2 separate regions of the Homo sapiens genome follow, and region 2 is linked to region 1. The links come from fine-mapping of genetic effects on plasma protein levels. A gene starts in region 1. The other region holds a variant in brackets. All regions are shown on one strand. Distances are from middle to middle.

Evidence for each region. PIP is the posterior inclusion probability: the model's chance that the variant is causal. The UK Biobank Pharma Proteomics Project read protein levels with antibody pairs (Olink). The fine-mapping took linkage between variants from a reference panel, not from the people measured, so its PIPs are less certain.
Region 2: its variant is fine-mapped to the plasma level of the SNED1 protein (UK Biobank, PIP above 0.99). The variant lies in the coding sequence of SNED1. If it changes the protein, the assay may bind it differently, which can mimic a change of level.

The regions. Positions count from the first base shown.
Region 1 is chr2:240,993,905-241,005,872 of GRCh38, reverse strand. SNED1 (sushi, nidogen and EGF like domains 1) reads right to left here and starts at 7,255. Exons shown (of 32, transcript NM_001080437.3): 1 at 6,823-7,255. The coding sequence starts at 7,035. RefSeq lists a silencer at 7,204-7,623.
Region 2 is chr2:241,034,082-241,045,754 of GRCh38, reverse strand. SNED1 (sushi, nidogen and EGF like domains 1) reads right to left here. Exons shown (of 32, transcript NM_001080437.3): 4 at 11,025-11,187; 5 at 8,840-8,965; 6 at 8,402-8,515; 7 at 5,567-5,680; 8 at 5,342-5,455. All of the region lies in intron 1 of SNED1-AS1 (SNED1 antisense RNA 1), which reads left to right. It also overlaps a transcript of MTERF4 not described here. Among named protein-coding and RNA genes, the nearest start is that of SNED1-AS1, 24 kb to the left of the region's middle. RefSeq lists enhancers at 3,667-3,896, 4,347-4,396, 8,826-9,769, 9,770-10,711, 10,712-11,655. The variant C/T (reference allele first, on the strand shown) is at 11,159.

The DNA.
Region 1 (11,968 bases):
TACAACAATACACCTAATAACCAAATTGCTGAAAAGCAGTGATAAAAAGAATATCTTAAAAGGAATCAGAGAAAAAAGATGCATATGCGGAGGGACAAAGATGGGAATGACAGCAGACTTCTCATTACAAACTATGCCAATCAGAAGACAACAGAGCAGCATCTTCAAAAAATTTAAAACACAAACAAAATCCAAAGTCAGTTTGGAATTCTACACCCACCCAGCAGAGCTATCTTTCAAAAAATGAAGATAAAGAGATTTTCAGATTTTAAAAAAACAGTGATAATTTATGCCAGCAGGTCTACACTATAAGAAATATTAGAGGAAGTCCTTCAAGCAGAAGGAAAATGATATAAAAATGGAAATCTGGGCCAGGCATGGTGGCTAAGGTCTGTAATCCTAGCACTTTGGGAGGCTGAGGCAGGCAGGTCACTTGAGGCCAGGAATTCCAGATCAGCCTAACCAACATGGTGAAACCTCATCTCTACTAAAAATACAAAAATTAGCTGGGGGTGATGGTGGGCACCTGTAGTCCCAGGTACTCAGGAGGCTGAGGCAGGAGAATCATTTGAACCCGGGAGGCAGAGGTTGCAGTGAGCTGAGATCATGCCACTGCACTGTAGCCTGGATGACAGAGTAAGTAAGAATCCATCTCAAAACAAAAACAAAAACAAAAACAGAAACTAAACTAAACTAAAATTTAAAAAATAAAAATTTTTTAAAAAAAGAAATCTGGACCTACACAAAGAAATGAAGAAGACTGGAAATAGTAAATATGTGGGTAAATATAAAAGACTTTCTAATTTTAATCTCTTTAAATGATAATTGACTGTTTTAAAGAAAAAAAACATTGGCCAGGCATGGTGGCCTACATCTGTAATCCCAGCACTTTGTGAGGCTGAGGTGGGTGGATCACGAGATCAGGAGTTCAAGACCAGCCTGGCCAAGATGGTGAAACCCCGTCTCTACTAAAAATAAAAAAAACTAGCTAGGTGTGGTCGTGGGCGCCTATAATCCCAGCTATTCAGGGGGCTGAGGCACAGAATTGCTTGAACCTGGGAGGCAGAGGTTGCAGTGAGCCGAGATCACGCCACTGCACTCCAACCTGGCGACAGAGTGAGACTCCATCTCAAAAAAACAAACAAACAAAAAGTTAACAGTGCATTATTGGGTTTATAACATGTGTAAAGTAATATATATGACAACAATAGCATGAGGGCCAGAAGGAAAATGGATGTATGCTGTTATAAGATTATTATATCATACTTGAAAGAGTATAATATTATTTGAAGGTAAACTATGTTAAAAATGTGTTTTAAATCTAGAATAATCACAAAAAAATAAAATCAGAGGTGTAGGTAATAAGCCAATAGTATAGATAATATGAAATTATTTTTAAAAATCCAAAAGAAGAAACTATAGAGAACAGATGTAACAAATAGGAAGATGATAGGTTAAAATTCAACCATATTGATAATTACATTAAATGTAAATGGTCTAAAACACTCTAATTAAAAGGAAGAGATTTGTCAGGCTGGATTAAAAAAAATCAGTACTACACTTCTTTTTTTTAGCATTTACAAGAAAGACAATCAAGGCCACAGTCATTAAGGTGTGGTAAGGGTTTTGCTGAAGATTTCACAGGAAGCCAGAACAAGAAGCCACAACAAATGCTCAGACTGCAGTTTTATCAGTGTTGTGCCCACTACCTATATACATCTCCTTTCTTCATGGCTCCCCTGGTGGGATGTGGGGATCATTTTGTGCCTCAAGCAGAGGCCAGCCTCACCCCCAGGCTCATCCCCACTCCAGGATCTTCCCCTCCATACATGCATCAGCTTCTCTCCTTCCTCACATAGGACAGCCTGGCCCTGTCCAGCCCAGGGGCTTCCAGCCCTATTCCAGCTCACTCAGCCAAGAAAGGGCTCATCAGAAACCAGAGATGTTAGAAGGCAGAGGGCAGTATAAATGATAACCAACATTTTTTTGGTCACCTTTACAAATTGCTGCTCCTGTGTGCAGCCTTATGGCTTCTCGTGGCCCATCACACACAGAAGTGTCACAGATAACACTTCATGTCAGTATCACACAAACTGACCTGTCTTCCCTGTGAGTCTCTTCTCTAAGCAGGTCACCTGCAGAGGTGGGGCAGTGCAGACAGAGACTTTCCTTATGGGGCCCAGCATGCAGCCAGGACCCCCTACCACACTACCATGTTCCAACAGCTGTGCCTGTGCCATGGGTCAGGCCAGTCCTGGGAGGGAGTCGGCTGTGGGCTGAGGCTGAAGTGTGCAGGTCCTGCATCTCTGTGTGGAAAAGCTGACTCCCAGGCTAAGGCTCACCCTGTCAGGGAAGGTGGGACTGCTTCTGCTTTGGGGAACACACGGTGCAGAAATGTGCTGGTGGCCAAGACCATGAGCCCACCATGTGGATGTGGCACAGGAGGACTTACTGCTCAGGGTGCAGGCATCTTGCTGCATGCATCCTCTGGCCTCAGCAGGGGTGGAAGAGAGAGTCCTTCACCAGGGCACCACCACCACTGCAGCCCCAGGCTGTCGTCTGAGGCCTATTCTGAGCCCAACACCAGAATGGTGGCATGAGGATGGATGTGGTCCCTGCCTTCATGGGGTGCACATCCCAACACCTCCCAAACAAGAAAACTAAGGAGCAACCCAGCTGAGGTCAGAACCAACAAGCTGCAGTGAGCACAGAGGGTGGGGCTGGGGGAGTGCCTGAGCGGGGGGCCCGGGGGAGGGCGGAGGGGGGCAGGGAAGCGTAGCGGGGATTCTGGCGAGGAGAGACAGGATCCCACTGGTGTTTTGTATGGCTCCCTTGGTCACTCTGCACAGAGGAGGGCAGGCTGGAGGGAAAGGCCAAGAGCTGGAGGTCAGCAAGGGGGTGCTGCAGGTGTCCAGGCAAGTGGGGATGGACAGCTGGGAAGTGGTCCAAGTAGAGAGGCAGGCGGAGCTGCTGCTGACGTGGAGGGTGAGGGAGAGGAGGGAGGCATTGGGGAGGCTCTCAGGGGTTTATTCATGGAGATGGGTGGGCGCCAGGGAGGAAGCAGGACTTCTGTTTGGGTCCCACTGAGTTTGGGGTGGCACAGTAAGAGGCAGCTGGACGCAGGAGTCTGAAGGCCCCTGAATCTGCATTCTGAGCCTCGGTTTCCTCATCTGCACTGGGCATGACGTCCTGCTCCATCCTCTCAGGGGCTGCCTGTGAGGTCCAGGCAGATCACAGCTGTCCTGGGCTCATGGCCTTGACCTGGAGTCATCAGGCTCTCTCACTCCAGCATCCTCCTCGACTCCAGCCCCATTCCACTTCCCCAGGATCCCCTTCCATCTGCTTCCGTCACACCCAGGCAGCAGCAAGAAGGGCATGCTGATGAGGGGCAGGACCACCTTGGCCAAGCCCATAGCAGGGGGTGGGCCAGCCCGGGAACCTCAGTGAATAGGGCAGCCAAGGGGAAGCCCAGGACCCTCCTCCCAGCCAAGGGGCTCCTGCATTTGCTGGGGTGTTCCATGAGCTCAGAAGAGAGCAGAGATGGCAGTGATTTCTCCCCACATGTCTGCTCCCAGATCCACTCATGCGCAGGCCTCGGTCCCACTGAGACAGTCCCTGTGGGTCAGGGTGGATTTTCCAGATGGCTTGGAGCTGGCGACCACACAACCGTGACAGTGATGGGGTGTGTCACAGGTATGACCTGATGGGGGAGCTTCACCACACAGATGGGGAGACAGAGGCTCAGGGAGGAAATGACCAGGCAAAGGTCACAGGCTGCATGTGAACTCCCACACCAGAGCAGCTGCCCTGGGCTCCGTGTTCTGGGAGGGGTAGGGCCGGGACTGTGCCTGGATGGTAATGTTGTGCAGAGCCAGAGCCAGCAGACTTGCGGTGTGGCACGAAGCCTCAGGGCACAGAGTGGGGGTTTAGCCAGCACCAGCGAGGGTCAGTCTGACTGTCCACATTCCTCCTTCTTGCCTGCGGGCTCTGCAGGGCACCACCCACTCTTGACCCTCAAATCCTCCCTGCCTCTGCTCAGGGCTCTGTCGGGGGTCCTGATGCCAAAGAAACTGAGATCCTCCCATGGCCCAGAGACCATGCTGTGGATGGGGGCAGTGCTTGGAGCCAGGAGCTTCAGTGTAGGGGGCACCAGGAAGATTTCGTCTCTCATTCCCTGCACCTGCCCCTAGGAAACCACTCCACCTGCATAAGCCCCACAGACCGCGGCAAGCTCCGTCTTAATGCAGACACTGGCAGTTCCTGCATGGCAGGATAGCGGCAGCATGCCACACTCCTCAGCACGCCACACTCCTCGGCGCGCCACGCTCCTCGGCTGCATTATCTTTGTCTGTGTGTAGAACCTTAGCAATAAAATGCACTTTCAACACTTTTCAGAGCCTTACGACTTACCACACACATACAGCTACTATGACATGAGAAAGAAGCAAAACAATGGGTCCCTTCTGGAAAGGGGGCCACTCCATGTGTGGCAGAGCTGTCTTGCTAGGGCAGTAATCCATGTGCTATTTCTGATGAAGACAGAAGAAGCACCCATCTCATGCAAGAGCACTTCTAATTTCTACCTGTGACTTGCAGGCAGTGTCAGAGGGAGGCACATTCATTCATTCAGACAACAAGCCTACTCTTGGTCAAGCGACAGGCTGGGGGCGGAGGAGCGCAGAGGTCACTGCAGTGGGATGGGGGCTGGAGGGTCCTGGCTGGGCCTGACATGGGAGTCTGAGTCCAGGGCCAGCAGACACGAGGCCCCTATAGACTGGAGCTGGACAAGGGCCAGAGCCAGGGGCCTCAGAAGAGGGTCCGCTCGGCCTGGGTGGGCGTGGGAGGCCCCAGGCAGGTCCACTTCCTTCAGAACAAATGCCTCCCTTCTTTCCACCTGGCTTCAGCCCTAACCTGCTGCCAAGCACCCCTTTCTCTCTCCCTGCTTGACCACAGAGTCCGCACAGTTACTTCAGGCAAGGTGTCCTGGGCAACGCAGCCTCAAGCCTCCTGCTGAGCAAACAGAAAGGTGAAGTGCACTGCAGGCACTGTGTCCACATCGGCAAATGGTTTTCAAATAATATCTTTGTTTCAGGAAAAAGCTCCGATGGAGATAAATGTTTTGTTAGCAGCCAGAAGGTTCATTTCTGACGAAACCCTAGTTCTCCTAGCAGATCTTCCCACGTTAGAGCTGTTTCCCCTAGTTGCTCTGGCAAGGGCAGATGTTTTTGGTGAGGCTGTTAAGTGGGTTAACCATTTTAATAATATTTTCACCTGTGACTGTGAGTGGGAAAGCTGAGCCTGGCCCAAATGCTTAAGGAGCCTCTTGAGTTCTGTTCGGATGGTGCCAATGTGAGTGTCCCATACCTCAAGTGGACAGGCCTCCTCCAGCTCGGGCCAACGCTGAGCACCATTCTGTCCTACCCACTTCGTACTTCCAGGAGTCAGTCCCGTTCCTCTGTCCAAGTCCCGGTCCAGAGGGACTTTCAGGGGGTAGCACCGACAGCATGGCTGCCCCTCCCACCAGTCAGGTCACCCAGTGCTGCCACCGAGGTGGGGAGGCCTTCCTGAGCAGGTGTGGAAAACGCAGTGGGCGCTGTGGATGGTGTTGGCAGTTGTGGGGTGGGAGGCGCACTAGAGGGCATGTGGTGGAGGAGGCCCTGTGGATGGAGGTGGGGAGGGATGATGACAACCATGCAGAGGATGTGGATGGTGACGACGGGAAGCTGGGGACCATGGGGAAGGTGGTGGTGGAGGCAGTGCTGCTGGTGGTGGGGTTGAAGGAGGTGGTGTTGACGGAGGAGTTGGCAGTACAGGTGGTGTTACTCCGGGCAGCACAGATGGCAGAGGCGATGTGGCTGGCAGTGGGTTGAGGCTGGAGGTGGGCGAGGGTATGAGAGGGCTGATGGTGGAGGTGGCCGTGGTGACGGAGCTGGAGGGGACTCTACTTGAGGCTGGCCCAGCAGTTTTCTAGATATGATCTGGGGTGTTTCAGGGAACCACCAGGTACCAGTGCACCGTGGCCTACTCAGGGCGAGTGCTCCATGCAGTTACCAGGTGCATTTCATTCCCTGGGCTGCCATAAGGGCTTGGCCTGGGGTCACACTCTGGGAGCCATGGAGACAGAACCGGCACTCGGGCCTGTTCCTTCAGCTGAGCTGAGCCTGCTGTCATGAGTCCCTGGCCCCAGGAGTCCCACTGGGAGTCCTGTTTGGAGAGTCTGAGCCTGAGCGGCCAGCCCCCAGACTGCGGAGAGGACGGCAGGGAGGGGCAAGCCTGTTGCTAGCCCGCCTAGGAGGGTCAGCGAAGAAGCAGGCCCTGCCCTGAGCGCCTGGGCAAGGGGTCCAGCCTCCTGGCTCTGGGCCGCACTGGCGTCCACGGGGGGCGGGGCTGAAATGGCCCAAGGAGGGGCTGCAACCTTCGCAGGCCCGGCGCCCCACTTGGGAAACTGAGGCCCGGGAAGCCCGTGCCCACGGCCACATTGCCATGTGTGAAAACCAGGGCAGTACCAGGACCCCTGCTCTCCCCTGGGAATCAGGCGCCGGGAAGACGCGCTCGGCAGGTCTGGCAGGGGCCGGGGCGCCGCGCTCCACTCGCCCCCGCCTCGGTGCCCGGCGGCTGCCGCCCCCGCCCCGCCCGCGCGCCTCTCCCGCGGGCCGCTGTCCGGCCTTGGCCGCCGAGGAGGAAGCGCTGTCCTCATTCCACCTCGGGCCGCCCCGGTGCCAAGTGGCTGGCGGCGGCGGCGGGAGTCCGGGCCCGGCGGGCAGCGGCCGGGGCGCAGCTCCCTCCCCTCCCGGGCGCCCCGCGAGCCCGGGGGTTACTCACGTAGAGTCCGGAGTGCTCGGCACCGAAGAACGGGAAGGGCACCGAGAGCGGCCGCAGCCCCGAGCCGCCGTCGTCCTGCTTGGGGGTGACGGCGTCGCCGCGCTCGGCGCCGAACGGGTAGAAGTCGGCAAGGGCCACCGCGCCGCGCACCCCGCGCGCCCCAAGCCCCAGGGCCGCGGCCACCAGCAGCGCCCAGGCGACGCCGTGCCGCATCGCGGAGGTGTGCGGGCGGGACGGGGCGCTGGCGGAGCAGGGCGCTGGGGGACTAGGCTGCGCGCGGGGGTGGCCGGCAGGGCCAGGCGGGGTGCGGGGAGCGCGGGCGCGCCCGCTGGCCGCGCCGTCGGGGGCTCCGCGTCCCGCGCCCGTTCGGCCGGGCCGCGCTCTCGCCGCAGCTCCGCAGAGGAAAGCGCCGGGCGGGACCGCGTTCGGGGCCAGCCCCGCCCCTGGGGCCACGATTTAAATATCCAGCCCGGCGGTCACTCGGGGGGGCGGGGCCATGCAAATCGGGCGTCTCTTAAAGCGCCAGGCCCCGTGGGAGGGCGCGGGCGCGCGGGGAGCTCAGTCCCCTGGCGTGGGCACAGGCAAGGTGAGGGCTCTGCGGGCGCGCGCCCTGTGGTGGGGCCATGCTCCGCCCTGGGTCCCTACCCTGGTGGAGGCGCCTGGGCCCTCAGTGCCGTCCTGGGACAGACCTGTGTCCCTAAGGCCTGAGACGCTGGGCCCGCCCTGAAGGCGTGTCATCACGCGGGGGGCGGGAGGGGACCCTGGCCAGGCAGTGCCTGAATGAACCCGTTCCGTGCTGCCCCCTTCCCAGCCCTGAGCATGGGGACGCCAGGCTTCCAGCCACAGGGGCAGACTAACCCCGGAGCCCACTCCCTGCCTGGGTCTGTGTGAGGAAGAGCCCGGGCCGGAGACTAGGAGGCATGGAACAAAGTGTTTGCATCTGCGTGGCCGCATCAGGAGAAATTCCTGGGAGGCTCGGGACCTCGGGGCGACCCCTGGGTAAAGCAAACCCTCCGTGGGGAAGACTGACCCACTCAGGCCCTGGGGGCAAGTGCGTGCATGACACCGGCCTTGGCAGGTGGGGGCAGGACTCTGAGTCCCAGTATTTGAATTCAGGGTCCCCACCCTGTGGCCTGCCAGCCCTGCCCCCTGTCTCTTGGGCTGCTGGCCTGGGCTGCCTGTCTGTCCTTCCTCAGGGCCTCAGCCGGGACCACCTCTATGTCCCCAGGCCCATGGCAGGGTCTGATTCCTGGAACTCACCCGGCCCACCGTGGTCTCTTCTCTTAGATCCTGGTGTTGGGTGGTGTTGGCTGCGTGCCACACTGGGGCCCCCAAAGATAAGAGTGCACCCCTCGAAGACAAGCAGGAAAGGCCGGGCTGATGGTAACTGCATCTACCACTGAGGTGCTGGGTGGTTTTTTGTTTGTCTTTGCGTTTGTATCTTCTGAAATATCTCAAGTGAGCACGTGTTGTTTTTCAGTGAGAGCCAGGCACAGTCAATGTTATTTTTAAGAAGCAGCGGAGGGTTCTCTGCGTGTGACTGGGTGTTGCCGGTTCTCACAGATCCTGCACTTGGTGTTTTCACTCAGAGGTTCATGACCCTTTAGACTTGGTGTCAGGGCCGGGTGCAGAATTGTTAAGGAGGAGCTGACCCTGCACTGGCACCTCCTGAAAGCTTGCCCCTGGCGCCTCTCCCACCCTGCATGGGGTGGCAATTCTGTTTGCAGAGAGGCAAACTGGGCCTGGGAGGGGAAGGGCTCTGTCCCGCAGTTAGCCCTTAGGTCACCGTCCCAGCTTTCAGAGCTCCAGGACAGCAGCACAGCCATGGTTCCAGGGCCAGAAAGGTCAAGGCCTCCTGTCTTTGGAGGGAGGCACCAGAGAGGGCGTGGAACTGTAGAATCCCTACTTGAGGCCGGCTCTCGGTGAGAGCCTGGCAAGGAGAGACATGTCTCCACGCACATGCACACACGTCCACGCACACATGCATACTTATTCACATGCACGGAGGCAGCATATGCCCATACGTGGGGCCTCAAGAACATGCTTTAACCCCTTCCTCAGCCCAGCCCTGGCCTCCCTGGTCAGGGAGGGCTGCTCCCACCTCTGGCTGGCACAGGCCGTGGAGTCAGGACAAGGCCCCATGTAGCAGCGTTGGGAACAGAGCTGCCAGGCGTCACCGTGGCGGGAATCAGGGAGAACGCTTTTCTATTTGTCTTTTTTCTAGAAAAACCTGGCAGCCCTCTACCCTCTTTTCAGTGCATTTGGGGCCTGGCTGGAAGGCCCCTCCGGTGAGTTTGCGAAGGTGGGAGGCGGCAGTGCCAACCCCAGGGCAGGATTTCTCCGCTGAAGAGGTGTTGTCATGGGGACGTGAGGCTTTGACCCCCACTAGGGCTGGCCCACCTCCTGCCCTGTCCCTACTACCCATCCACTTCCCACCACATGCTCCTGCTCTGCTCTCAGAGCCCAGCCTGGGGTGCTGCCTCCCAGCCAGCTGCCCAGGCCAGGCGCCCTTCTCCCCACTGCTGACCTTCTCTTGAGCACACAAGACAGGGACCTGGGTAACAACCCATTTCTGGGCTGGGTTTGGGTCAACTTGGGGGCAGGGCCGCCCAGGGCACCTTGGGGCACACAGTGGCACTCAGTGGCTGCACCGAGTGGAGGCCTGTTTCTTCAGGCGGGTGGGCTGGTGGGCCTCACGGGGGTCGCTGAGCAGTGCTGGAAACGCTCAGGCCCGTCCTCGTCCCAGAGAGTCAGAGCTCATGGGCCTGGGGCGTGGCTGGCAGTGGGCCAGACCCTGCTCATGGCCCAGAGAGGCCACACTTCCTCGGGCCTGTACCCTGCTGACCAGCCTCGGCCTGCACCCTGTGCAGATTTTCAGCCGGGCCCGGGGAGCTGGGGGTTAACAAAAGGCCCCGCTGCTGCTGGGCATTACATTTCATTAAAAAAAAAAAAAACAAAAAAAAAACAACACAACTCTGCAGGCAAAAAAGAGAAAAAAAAATGTTTTTCTCAGGTGCTAAAAATATTATCAGGAAATACTTTTCAGCAATGTGCTGTTTTAGGCTCCCCTCTGGACTCAAGGGCGCCTTTGTCTCTGCCACAGAAAATCCACATTTATCAAAACCAAAATTGTTTTATCAAGCAGGCTCATGTTCTGTGGCCAGGAAACCCGAGCCTCCCCAACCGGCCTGTGACATTTTAATTTAGGGCCTGAGCGTGTGTGCAATTTAGATGGGGTGCCCCGGGAGCTGCCCTCAGGATGCCCCAGGACTCGGGGCTCCACGCAGGCCAAGGTGGGGGTGCCCTCCCCAACCTGCACCTGGTTGGCTGGGCCTGTTTGGTCTTCACAGGGTGGAAGATCCTGGGGGTTCAGGCCTGAGCTGCCAGGGGCAGGGGCTGGCTGGCTGTAGCCCACCCTAACTTTCTCTCCTTCTCTCCCAGAAGTGGCAGGTGGAGTGCAGGTCCCCTGCCCCAGAAGCGCTGATCCCAAGTAAACCTCCACATGCTCCGGAATGAGGCCAGGAGGTCACAGGGACCAAGGGCCGCTCCACCTGCTCACCTGGTCACTGTCCTGTGTGGCTGGTTGGGGTCTTGGTGCAGTTGGCCCTGAGGGAGTGTGGGGGCCATGCAGCCTGCCCTGTACCTCCTCTTCTCATGCACACGGAGCCGCACACACATTGACTCCCATGACGGGACTTCTGTGGTTGCTCTTAGGGAAACGATGGGACTGGGGTTCAACACTTCCTTCCCAGGATGTTCACTGCTGCGTGGGCTCAGGCATCGGCTCTCCCTGTCCTGGGGATGACGAGACCCTGCCTCCCGTTGAGAGCCTTGTCCATCTCCTGAGTGCCCAAGACAGGACAGAGCCCCATTCTCTGTGGGCTCCAGGATGGCAGGGACAGCCAGCAGTGGAGGGACACTCAGGCCCAGGGTCCTCCGATGCCCCGGAGCTTCCGCAGCAAAAAAACCATGCTCTGAGACGTTTTTAGTGATTCGGGAAAACTCTAACGGTATTGTGTCAAGCAAAAGTTTTAAAAAATAGTACTCTGAGTAGCATCCACGCTATGGCCTCAACCGTCCTAAGCACACGTGTGCTAGAAAAAGGGAGAGTTGGGTGTCACCTCGGGGCTCTGCAGGTCACAGATTATGGTGGTGGTTACATTCTCCTTTCTATGTTTCCCTGCTAACATTTTTTGCAATTAATTTGAAAAGTATGAATGTTTTGGAAGCCCAGATAAACAATGCCCTTGGTTCCAGCTGGCCGGCTTCCTGCCCCGGCTTCAGCCAACCAAAGCTTGTGCTTCCCTCAACCTGGGGTGCTTCAGAGGGCTGGCCTGTCCTTGGGTGCCGCCGTCTGCGTTCAACATGGCCCCTCCTCCAGTGCCCCCTCCCCAGGGGGCCTTCCTCTCCCATTTGTCCCCTCCCTGTGTTGGTCTGCAACCCCTGGATGCCTGCAAAGGGTGCTGCCCCCGGACCCAGGCACCTGAGGGCCTGTCAGAGCGTCGGAGCTTCCTGGCCAGAGGCTGGATGGGACCCTCCAACAGCCCCTGCGTGCCCCACATTCCTCGGCGAGCCTCAAGGGTGGCAGGAATCCGAAGGGATTTTGTGTTCTGTCTCAGACAGGAGCTGGGCCCCTGCCTGCATCCCTGCCTTGTGTGGGGGAGGGTCTCCTGGCTTTCGGAAACCTCAGGCACATTTATCACCTCTGCCCACCGGAGAGGGCAGGCAGAGGAAGAGCCAGACCATGGAGGCCTCCAAGGTCGCAAGCGTATGTGTGGCTCCAGCTCCATGAGGTGGTTCTGGGGGTCCATCCCCTGCAGGGACAGGCCTGAGAGCCACCTCTGAGTTTTCACTGACACCCAGACTCTCTGTGGGTTCTAGAGGTAGACCCTGAGAGTACCCTCCCCTTGGGAACATCACGGATCTGCGCCGCCTCCACCAGGCTGGCCTCAGGGGCTGCTCCCTCGAGTACCCTGGCCCTGCTGGACCGTGGCTGGGGATGGCAGCAAGGAGATGGACATGGCACTCCCAGAGCCGTGGCTGCTGCAGGTGACAGTGCCTCCACCGTTAGCTGAGTGCTTCTGGCCTCAGCCTGGGCGATACTTCACGTAGGACACACCATGGCCCTCTGGGGCTGGGGTCACCC
Region 2 (11,673 bases), 40 kb before region 1:
ACACTTTGCTTAAGACCAGGTCATAAATTTTTTTTTTTTTTGCCTATGTTTTCTTCTAAAAATCTTATAGTTTATGTTTTTCCATTTAGGTCTATGATCCATTTTGAGTTAATCTTTGTATAAGGTGTGAGGTTGAAGTTGAGGTTTTTTTTTTATACATATAAGGATATTTAATTGTTTCAACCCCATTTGTTGAAAAGATTATCATTTCTCCATTGGATTTAAATCTTTTTCAAAAATTAATTGGCTATATTTGTTTGGGCTTAATTCTGAATTTCCTCTCCTGTTTCATTGATCCATGTGTCAGTCCCTTTGCCAATATCACACTGAATTGATCACTGTGGCTTTACAGTAAATCTTAATACTCAGTAGTGTGATTCCTCAAAATTTATTCTTCATCAAAATTGTTTTGGTTTTCTAAATTCTTTTTCTTGCCATATAAATTTTAGAAGCAGTTTGTCTACATTTACAAAAGATTCTGCTGAGACCTCTGTTGGAATCATGTTAAATCTATAAATCAATTTAGAGAGCACTGCCATATTTACTACGTTGAGTCTTCTAATCCATGAACATGGTATGTCTGTCCATTTACTTGATCTTGATTTCTTTCATCAGCACTTTGTAGTTTTTCAGCATGCAAATTCTCTAATGTTTTAGTAGATTTATACTAAAGTCTTTCAATTTGAGAGGAGCTATTATAAATGGTATTGTCAATACAATTTAGATCAGATTACACAGATTCCTTCAACTTGGGGGAGCTCAGGAGTTCATAAGTAACTTTATGGAGTTGCTGTCCCAAGATTCACCCTCCAGTTTCCCCAGTACTTTCCAGTTTTCTGGGGCTACCTTTTTCAGTCCTCTGGCAAAAACGCTGCGGCTTTTATTTCCCTACCTTGCCACTTTTATAATGATGGCATTCATGGCTGGGACCAAGTAATGGGATGACAGACAAAGGGAAAAACAACAGGAAAGGGAAAAACAATACCCAACCCCTTTGAAACCACAGCACCTCCAACTGGAGAGGAAGGTTTCTTCCTTCGCAGTTTAAGGGCACTTGAGGATTCCCCAACTTCTGCACTGTCAGCCCTGCTTCTTAAGCTGGACTAGAGGGCTTCTCCTGGAGCACTCTTTCTGTCCGTGTGGATGCCCACTTCTGGTTTTGAGGTGGCTTTGAGTCCTGGCTGGGGGGATACCAAAGCAAAAAACAAAAAATGGTAAACTCACCACTGGTTTGGTGGTACTTCGAAGCTTGGTCTTCTTCCCCAATCCACCTGCTACTATTTACTTTTCAGAGTCCTCTGACAGCTACTCCATGCATTCTGTCCAGGATTGTAGCTGTATTCAGTGGGGGAGAGACAGGGGTAGACTGTGCTTACTCTATCTTTTTCAGAACCAGAAACCCATTCTATTACTTTACAATTACCTGTGTCTTTATACTTAGAGTGGGTTCTTGTGACAGCATATAGTTGGGTATTGCTTTTCAATTCAATTTGACAATCTTTGCCTTTTATTTGTATGTTTAATCATTTTACATTTTAATGTAACTACCAATATGACTAGACTGAACCTATCATCTTGCTATCGGCTTTTACTTGTCCCACTTCTTTCTTTTTTTCCTCTCTTCCTGCCTTCTGGATTGAGTATTTTTAGGATTCAATTTCTATCTCCACAATTGGTTTATTAGCTGTAATTCTTTATTATTATTTTTCACTTGTTTTGGGTTTACAATGTATATCTTTTACTTACACAGCCTACCTTCAAACAGTATATACCACTTTATGTAATATAGGGACCTTACAATATTATACTTCCATTTCTTCTTATCTTTTACATTGGAGTTGGTAAACTATAACCCACAGACCAAATCTTGCCTGCCATCAATTTTTAAAAGTACAGTTTTATTGGAACACAGCCATACCTATTCATTTACATATTGTCTATGGCTGGCTGCTTTCACATTACAATGGTAGAGTTGAGTTGTGATAGAGACCATATGGCTCACAAAGCCAAAAGTATTTACTTTCTGGCCCTTTACAGAAAAAGTTTGCACAGCTTGGTTTATGTTATTGGAGTCATCTATTTTATTTCTGCATGTAAGTTTTATTATTTTAAAATTTTTCTTTAAAGGGATTAAAAAGTCTTCAACCCACATATTTATCATTTTTAACACTCTTCATTCTTTTGTGTAGATCCAGATTTTCCCTTGGTACCAGTTTTTTTTTGCTTCTGACTAAATAATTTCCTTTAACATTTTTTTGTAATGCAGGTATGCTGGTGATGAATGCTCTTCATTTTTGTTTGTGTAAAAAAGTCTTTATTTCAGCTTAACTTTTGAAATGTAGTTTTGCTGGTAATACAGTACACTAGGTTGATGGTTTTTTCTTTCAGTGCTTTGAAGGTGTTACTCCAGTGTCTCCTGGCTTGCATTGTTTTTGACGAGAAGTCTGTTTCATTCTTGTTTCGCTGTATGTAATGTGGCTTTTTCCTCTGGCTGTTTTTGAGGTTTTTTATCATTAGTTTTCAGCAATTTGATTATGGTATGGCTTTGCATGGTTTTCTTCATGCTTTTCTTGGAAATGTGGGTTTTAGTTTTCATCAAATGTGGAAAATGTTTGGGTATTATTTCTTCACATACTTTTTCTATAACACTCCTTTCCACACCCATCTCCATCCTCCTTCGCAGACTCCAAATACGTGGATCCCAGGCTGCTTAATATTGTTCTCCATCCTCCTTTGCAGACTGCACATACATGGATCCCAGGCTGCTTGATACTGTTCTTCATCCTCCTTCACAGACTCCAAATACGTGGATCCCAGGCTGCTTGATACTGTTCTCCATCCTCCTTCGCAGACTCCAGATACGTGGATCCTATTACCCTAATATCGTTCTGCAGGTTGCTGAAGATCTCTTCTTTTTCTTTTAGTCTTATTCTCTCTGTGATGCATATTGAATTGTTTCTGTTTCACTCTTCAGGTTCATTGATCTTTCCTTCTGCAATATCTAACCTGCTGTAAATACTATTCAGTGTATTTTAAAAACTCAGATATATTTTTCATTTCTACAAGTTTTTAAAAATACCTTCTACTTCTCATTAGGTTTTTTTCCCCTCAACAATCTTGATTATAGGAGCATATTCATAATAGATAATTAAACATTTGTATCTGCTAATTCTGTCATTTCTGGTGCCTGTTTCTATTGATCTATTTTTCTCCTGACTGTGAGTTATATGTTACTTCTTTGTAGACCTGATAATTTTTGACTGGGTATTTTGGAGTTCTGGATTCTGTTGTATTATTGATATACTCCTGTTGAGGAGTATAGGATTTTATTCTGGCACATGGCTCAATGACTTAGGATCAGTTTGATCCTTTTAAGCTTTCTTTAAGATCTGTTAGGGCAGGTCGACATTAGTCTTTAGTTCAGCACTACTAAAGTGACACCCCACTGAGGACTCTATGCAATAGACTCCCAGCCCTGTTTGAGCTCCAGGAAGTGTTTGACTTACTGCTTTCTAGTGGTTCTTTCCCCAGCCTTGCAGATTTCATCCTGAGCCTGATAATAATAAGCCAAAATTCAGGGAGGTCTCCTCTTGATCTCATGCTCCCTCCTGCCTCAGGAGCACCATCCTGTAGCCACTGAACTAGGATCTTTGTCTCCTCAATTCAAAGGGACTGCTGGACTCTCAGTTCCTCCTCCCAGCACAGTGGAGTGGAAACTGCCCCAGGCAGAATCTGGGGCAATTGTAGGGCTCACCTCATTTGATTCCCTTTTCTCAGGGGTGACAGGCTTGTGCTGTCTGTTGTCTAATGGCTGAAAAGGGTTTCACAGATTTTGTCTGTTTTTCTAGGTGTTGATGGTGAGAGGGAAATTCCAAGAGCAGTTAATTCTTGTTGGCCAGAAGCAGAAGACTAGAGACTCTTTTTTGTAGTGTCCAATTTGTGGCCCACTTCCTGTCAGACCTGATTAGACTGTCAGCATCTGCGCCTTGTAATACAGTCAATCAGTCATTACGTTAGCACCACCGTCAGTCTGTTGTTTCTTTCTTCTTCCTCTTTTGTTTTTTTTTAGACAGAGTCTCACTCATTCTGTTACCCAGGGTGGAGTGCAGTGGTGCGATCTCAGCTCACTGCAACCTCTGCCTCCCGGGTTCAAGCAATGCTCCAGCCTCAACCTCCCGAGTAGCTGGGATTACAGGCATGCAGCACCACGTCTGGCTAACTTTTGTATTTTTGGTACAGATGGGGTTTCACCACGTTGGCCAGGCTGGTCTTGAACTCCTGACCTCAAGTGATCCGCCCGCCTCAGCCTCCCAAAGTGCTGGGATTACAGGCATAAGCCACCACACCCGGCCAGTCTGTTTCTTATTATTCACTCTACTTGCATCATTATTCTGTAGAAAACACGGTTTATTTGCAAAAAATTTTTGAAACCACTTATCCGTTTCCTGACATGAATTTAGTGAAATACATTGATATTTAGATAACAATCTGGGCAAAGTGAGCTGTGACACGGAACAGTGACTTTAAAGCAGCCAAATAGGTGAGGCTGCCTCCTCCCGCTCCTGCCCCACCCTCCCCTCAGGACACACCCTGGCCTCCCATGCACTCGGCAAAGACTGATGGAGGGCCCATGACCCTCTGTGTCTTACGGGTAAAACAGAATTTCCTCCTGAATTTTTTAAACTAAAAATAACCTGAATAGTTTGTCTTTAGCATCTCCCTGGAGAGAAGCAGCACCTGGTGCGTCCACAGAAGTCGGCACAGTGGGTGAGCCTCTGGAGGCAGGTGCAACAATCAGACACGAAAGCCATTTTTATACTGTAGGCTGCAATCTCCAGTTGGCCTTTTAATTCCTCTAACAAGTCACAACTAGCAGTTAAACAACACAAAATAGAATAGAAAATAGTGAAAGGTCAGTTTTCTTTCTGATTCCCGTTACTTTCCCTTGTGTGCTGAGGGTTCTAGAGTAGGAGAGGAAGATGTTAAAAAAGTCAAGAGTCACCCAGGCTGGAAGAGGAGACTTGTGAACTTTGTCATCCCTCCTGGCATTTCACAGATGGAAACCAAGGCCCAGAGAGGGGAAGGGGTTGCTCAGCCTCACACAGCACCCTGGAGGCAGCATCCATCTTTTGCTTCCTATTTTCCCTGCAGTTGGTGGCTTAGGATCCAGGCTGAGCGGGAAGCGCTGGGGAGTGGGAAGGGGGCAGAGGCATCCTCCCACCCCAGAGACAGGTGTGAGGTGAGTCAGATGGCAAGGAAGGAAGGGGAAAGTGGCTATGGGGGTGTTCACGGCACAAAGCCACCATCAGCCATGGTGGCCTGCAGGCACTTGGCCAGTTACCTGTCTCACAGCGAAGTCCCTTGAAGGGCTCGGCACACAAGCAGGTGTAATTCCCCACTAGGTCAACACAAGAGCCTCCATTCAGGCAGGGGTCAGGGCTGCAGTCGTCCACATCTGAGGGGCAGCAGAGGTGCGGGCTTGGCTTGAGCCAGGCCACAACCACCCTGTGCCCAGCACCTGGCCACGGGCAGGAGCCCCTCTCCAATCCGAAGCCAGGCCACTCACCCATCTCGCAGGCTGCTCCGGTGTATCCGGCCTGGCACACACACACCGCAGAGCCATTCTCCACCTGGCACTGGCCACCATGTTGACACTCTTTGGTGTCACAGGGGGATTGGGCTAGAGTGAGGAGGTGTAGACAGGACGATGGACTCCCAGTTATGGTTACCTGAGGGGACAGAAACCCCTGGGACGTACACTGAGCCCCACCCCCAACTGGCTTACATTGCAGGGGGGCCTGGCAGGCAGGTTTCTGAGCGGGCGACAGGCAAGAAAGAGGCCTGGCCAGGCAGTCCTGACTGGCCACCCGAAGCTCTGTCTGAACTGGGTCTAATTCAGCAAACCTGGGATGGAGGGATGGGTGTGTATGCTGGGCAGGGGCAAATGGGGGTGCATGGAAATCACTCCCACTCTTGGGGGATGGTCCCTCCCTAGGTGGCTCTTATTCCAAGTGGACTGTGAGAAGAGCTGTGGTCAAGGATGCAGGCTGTGACTGAGCCTGGAAGGGTGTGCAGCACCCAGGGTGTAGGAGTGGCCCCTGGGGCGAGAGGCTGGGTGGGGCAGGCAGTGGCCTGTGCAGGAACGGCCAGGGCAAAGGGACTCTGGCCCCCAGTTACTGAGTGGGAGTGAGCTAGGGGAGCCCACCCTCTGCCCTCCCTCCTCACCGGATGCTGGCCCTCCTTGAGTCCAGAGCACCTGGCCCACACATCCCAGGTCTCTCCTTTGCCCTGGCCAGCAGAGCCAGACGCAGAGGAGAACCACATCCCCTGTCTTACTGACAGCTCATACCCAGAACAAACTCAGAAACAAGAGTGATAGCCAAAGCGTGTGTCCCTCCCTGGAGTCATGGGGGAATGGTGGGGCCCTCTCTTTGGCATAGGAAGGAGACAGGAGGGCCTGACTACTCCCCCAGGAGGTGTGAAAGCCCTTTGGTGGCTGATGGGACATGGTGATCCCTGTCTCCCTGACCCCAACTCCGCTAGGTGGAGGAGCATGCACACCCTAGCCTTTAGTTGCGGGCGCCCCTGCTGTTATGGGTTCTGGGGGCCAAGGTGGCTTCCAAGATCAGGGAGCCCCTGTGGGGGGTCGAGGCGGGAAGGCTTGTACCCAAGGCTTGTGCCACAGCTGCACTGAGAAAGTGAAGGCTCACGGTCCGAGGCCACACGTACAACTGACATGCTGCAGACCCAAGACCTGAACCAGCCTCCTGGCGCCAAGCCTCAAGCCCTCTTAGGGGACCTCACCAGGCTGCACATCACAGAGGGGCTCCTGGAGCCTGGGGCATAGCCGAGGAGCAGCCCATTCCTGGGAAGCTCTGCCCAGTCACCCTTGGGGACCCTCATCATAGGCCTGGGTCCTCCCGCAGCCAGGCCCCTGGCCAGCACCGCACAGGGAGAGCACTGAGCAAGAGGAAGGAGATCCTGCCAGCCTCCCTGGCCTTTACCAAGGGACAGACGCCTGCAGGGCTGAGTCTGCCACGGCACCAATGCCACAGAAGCCCGACTCCCACCCGTCTCACGTTGAGAGCACGTGGGCAAGCAGGGCAGGAGTTTCTGGATGAAGAAAGGCTCCTATGAATGGAGCTTGCTCCGACACTGGCTGTGGGAAGACAGTGGCAGGGCTCGGGGAGCAAGGGATAACTGGGGTCACTGTGCTGTCACCTATGTGTGATCTGTAAACACACTGGCAAGCCCATCTCGCCAGGTGGGAATTGTGCTTCACTGCTTTGGACCTTGAAGTCACATTTCCATTGCATTCCTGCAGAACTTCATTCTAATGTACTTTCAGGTGCAAAAGTCCCTTACTGCCATTCAACTATAGCTCTCTCCAATACCAATATGTGTAAACACAGGAAGGAAGTACTTTAAAAAACCTCCCATGACCATAAATATCTGATAAGAATTGTTTTTTTCTAGATTGAGATATTGATATAGTCACTATTTGAATGCATTGATCTAAACAATCTATTACATGTTTTTGTAAGCGACTGTCACACAGGACACGCACACCTGGCTGAGCTGGGTGGGGAGCAGCAGGTCACGGTGCTTTGATTTTAGGGGCTCCCTTTGCAAAGCTCCCTGAGCAGAGCCCTATGGTGAGATGGAGAGCAGGAATTGGGGGGGGGTCCACCTTTCTTTACCAGGTGGGTGAAGGGCATGGGTGAGGGGCCTAAAGAGGTGCCGGGGGAAGGGCAGTAAGTAGAGGCTGACTCTGATGACAACTGCTTCGAAAGAGCTGGGCTCTGAACTGGGAGGGCAAGCTGAGGTTTGGTAGCAGCAGTGAGGATGGAGAGGGACTCCAGGCCCCACCTAGGCTGTGAGACCCCCTTTCCCTGAAGGCAGGGGCAGGAGAGAAACAGCGTCCAGGAGCAGCCGCAGGGAGCGGCAGGGACCGTGTGGCTGTGCCCTTCCTGCCCCACAGCCAGCCCATCTGACCCCAGAAGCACTTCACGTTCCCCTCAAGCTGGTCCTGGGCTGAGAGGGGGTCTGACGGCCCCACCACATCCCCAGCGGGCTCCCATCCGGGCTCTGGTGCCTGTCTGACCCTGATCCTGGCCTGGTTTGGGACCTGGGCACTGGCCTGTTCTGAGGCCCCATCCCTGGTCCGAATGCCATGGTCTAGGAAGCCTGTGTGACTGGTCATGGCTCCTGCCCCCTACCCAGATATGGGCCTTTCCCTGGGCATCTGGGCTCCTCCACTCCTCGAGGGTGGCTTCTCTGGGCTGTCTACCTTGCAGCATGCACAGCTGCTGGACCTTCCAAGACCTCAGCCTTGTCCAGCTGTGTCTCCCGCTATCCTGCCCCCAGCAGGGCCCCGTGGGCCCCGGTGGGTTCCTCTTACCTGTCTCACAGGTGGGTCCCCCAAAGCCAGCCGGGCACTGGCAGCGGAAACTGTTGATGCCGTGAGTACAGGTCCCACCATTCTGACAGGGCTGGGAGGCACATTCGTTCACGTCTGAAACATGGGGCAGGCTGAGGCCTCAGCGGCGGGAACCCGGATGAGGAGTTTTCTCTAAGGGCTCGGGTTGGGCCGGGGACGGAGGAGGAGCAAGCCCGAGATTGGCTCAGAGAGGGCAGCAACTGCACCCGCCCATGGTGCTCACTCCAGGGGGCCATGGCCTTTGGTCCCCAGTGGTCCCCTAAGCAAGTCACCCACACCCTGGGGACAGAGACTCCTGACCTGGGACCCTGGGCGCCCAGGGCCACTGGCGGAGCCTACAGTGCTCCTCCTGAGCCCAGCGCAGCCAGCGGGTGGTCCCGCCCTGGGCCAGTCACTCACCCAGGTGGCACCTCCGCCCCGTGAAGCCCGAGAGGCAGGAGCAGGTGTAGGAGGGGTTGCCCGTGACGCAGTCGTCGATGCACTTGCCGCCGTTGAGGCAGGGGCGCAGGGCCAGGCACACGGACGCTGCAGACATAGGGAGGGGCTGGAGCCTCAGCCGCTGCCTCCGGACTCGGCAGGAGAGCCACTCCCATCCGCATCTCCCTTCCCTCCCCTGACCCAAAAGGTCGGCCTCTGGGTGCCCGGGTGACCGCAGCAAAGCAGCCAGGTTTCAGGTTTCACTTTAGGTCGGAGCAGGGGAGCAGGGGAGCAGGGGCGGTGCTGTTGGCGTGGCCTCTGGGGAGGTGGCTTCGTGTGGGGCGGACTCCCTGAAGCGACTCACACCAGCACCCCGTCCCCTCCATCCCTCTCAGCGCTGCCGTGGACAGGTCTAAAAACTGGCACACTCCGCCTCCCCTCCAGGGTTCCTGGCGTGGAAAACCCGAGGCTGGCACTCAGCCGTCATGTCAGCGTTTCTGGGACAAGGCGGGCCACGCAGGGGGTGTGGCTGGGGGCTGCAGGAGGGCTGTGTCCCTCGGATGCTGGGCGGCCGCTCTGGGCTCCCCGCCCCGTGAGCCCGGACTCCCTAAGCTCAGATGCAAGCGGGGGCCTGTTCGTGCCCCAGTGTGTGGGTAGCTCGGGCTCCTCGGGCCTCCTTCGTCGCGGCACCACCTGCAGCCCTCAGATGGGTCTTCCCGCCCTGCGACTGCATCTTTCCTCTTCCCATGAGCGCGCGGTGCTCTCCCCACCCCGTGGCGCGCCTCTACTCCCCAACCCCCACCCCGTGATGCGCCTCCACCCCCCACCCCCCACCCTGTGACGCACCTCCACCCCCCACCCACCCCGTGACGCACCTCCACCCCCCACTCCCCTCCCCGTGACGCGCCTCCGCCCCCCACCCCTACTACGCCCCACCTCCAACCCCGTGGCACACCTGCACCCCCCACCCCTCCACCCCGTGGCACGCCTGCACCCCCCACCCCATGGCACGCCCCCACCTCCCACACCCTCTACCCCTCACTCCCAACCCTGTGGCGCGCCTGCACCCCCCATCCCCACACCATCTACCCCTCATCCCCAACCCTGTGGCGCACCTGCATACCCCATCCCCCACCCCCACACTCTCTACCCCTCATCCCCCACCCCATGGCGCGCCTGCACCCCGCCTCCGCCCCGACAGTGGTGCGCGCGCATCTGCTACCCCTGTCGTGTTCTCTGGGGACTCAGTGTTGCGGAGATGCGGCCCCTCTCCCCTCTCGTAGCCTAGATGCTCGCGGCTGGGAGGCGAGTCTGGGGCAGGTCCCGGTGCGAGCCTCACTGCGGCCCCAGGCTTGGCAGGGCTTGTGATGCGCCGCCCTCAGTGGAGCGGATCAGTCGCTTGCCCTCGCCCCAAGTGTAAGCAGTGATTTCTGAAGGCTCCTTGGCTCCCAAGGCCGCACAGCAGCAGGGCTAAGGCTACCATCTATGGCTCTGCTGCCGCCCTGGCTGTTCCCACAAACCACGTGCCCACCCCTGGGAGGGACACCCACCCCGTCCGTTTGTGCACTGTGGGCTGGAAGGACCCCTGGAACTCCCCTGTAGACGTGATGCTTGGGTTTGTCAAGCAGTCACCAAATCCCACCAAGCAGCAAGCCCGCTGGCAAAAATGAGGACCTGGGTGGTAAGAGGACCTGCCTCATGGGTGGCCCTGAGGGTCAGAGACCACATGCTGCTCCTCCCCCAGCCCAGGCAGGAGGCTGGGTGGGAATAAGGGGAGAGTAGGGACCACATGGTCCCAGGGAGAGGTGTCCCTGGGCTCCTCCTCCCCTGAGGACCCAGAACTCTTTACCCCCGAAACCCGCAGTCTCCAGAGGGTTCCCTCCAACCCACAGCAGTGTGTGTGCGGGATCTTCTCTAGGGCACAGTCTCCAGAGGGTTCCCTCCAACCCAGAGCAGTGTGTGTGTGGGGTCTTCTCTAGGGGAAGCTGAGGCTGCAGGACCAGCCAGGCTTTCCTTAGTTTCACACGCCTGAGGTGGGCTGGGCTGGACACCCAAGTGCTCCTGCTCTCCCCGTCAGCATCCAGCCCCCTTCGTCTCCACCTCTCCTCTGCCATCAACCCCCTTCCTCAGCCCGCTCCCACCCCAAGCTGCTCCTCTGTCCTCTTACTTGTATGGCCGCAGCCCCCCACGCGCACCTGGGCATCATCGATTCTGAACGCCCAGCGCCCGGGCACACCCACGTTGGTGGTGGTCTCCACCTCGGCCATGTCTGCTGTGCGCGAGCCGGGGATACTGAAGTAA[C/T]GCTGCCCATCGCCTGCGTTGAAGCCAGCCTGGGGGTGGGGTGGGGGCAGAGTGAGGGAGGCCAGTTCCCCAGGTCTACAGAGGTGGGGGTTACCCTGCCCCCACCATGTTCCTGCCAGGGTCGGCAACCTCCCAGCCAGGTCCTGACCTCAGCCAACCGTTCCTGGGAGCCAAGGAGAGGGCTGGCCCTGGCTCCCCAGCCCAGTCCTCCGGCAGCTCACCTCTGGGCTCTTGGGCCTCCCCTGGGGCCAGGGGCAAGTATGAACCCAAGAGAAAGCAGGTGGCCAGGAGGTGAGTGGGGGTGCGCACAGCCCAAAGGCACTCTCGGGCCTGGGGAGCACTGACCCTGTGGCCATTGTCCTGTTTCATTCCCTCCACACCCGGGGTTTCCTGCCGGCTGTGGTCCCTTGTGTCACTGGCTAGGCCAGACTGCAGGGCACAAGGAGCAGAGGACATTTCTGTTGCTGTTGCAGCTGTTAAAGGGGACTGCAGGGGCAGGGCGGGGCAGGTCAGGG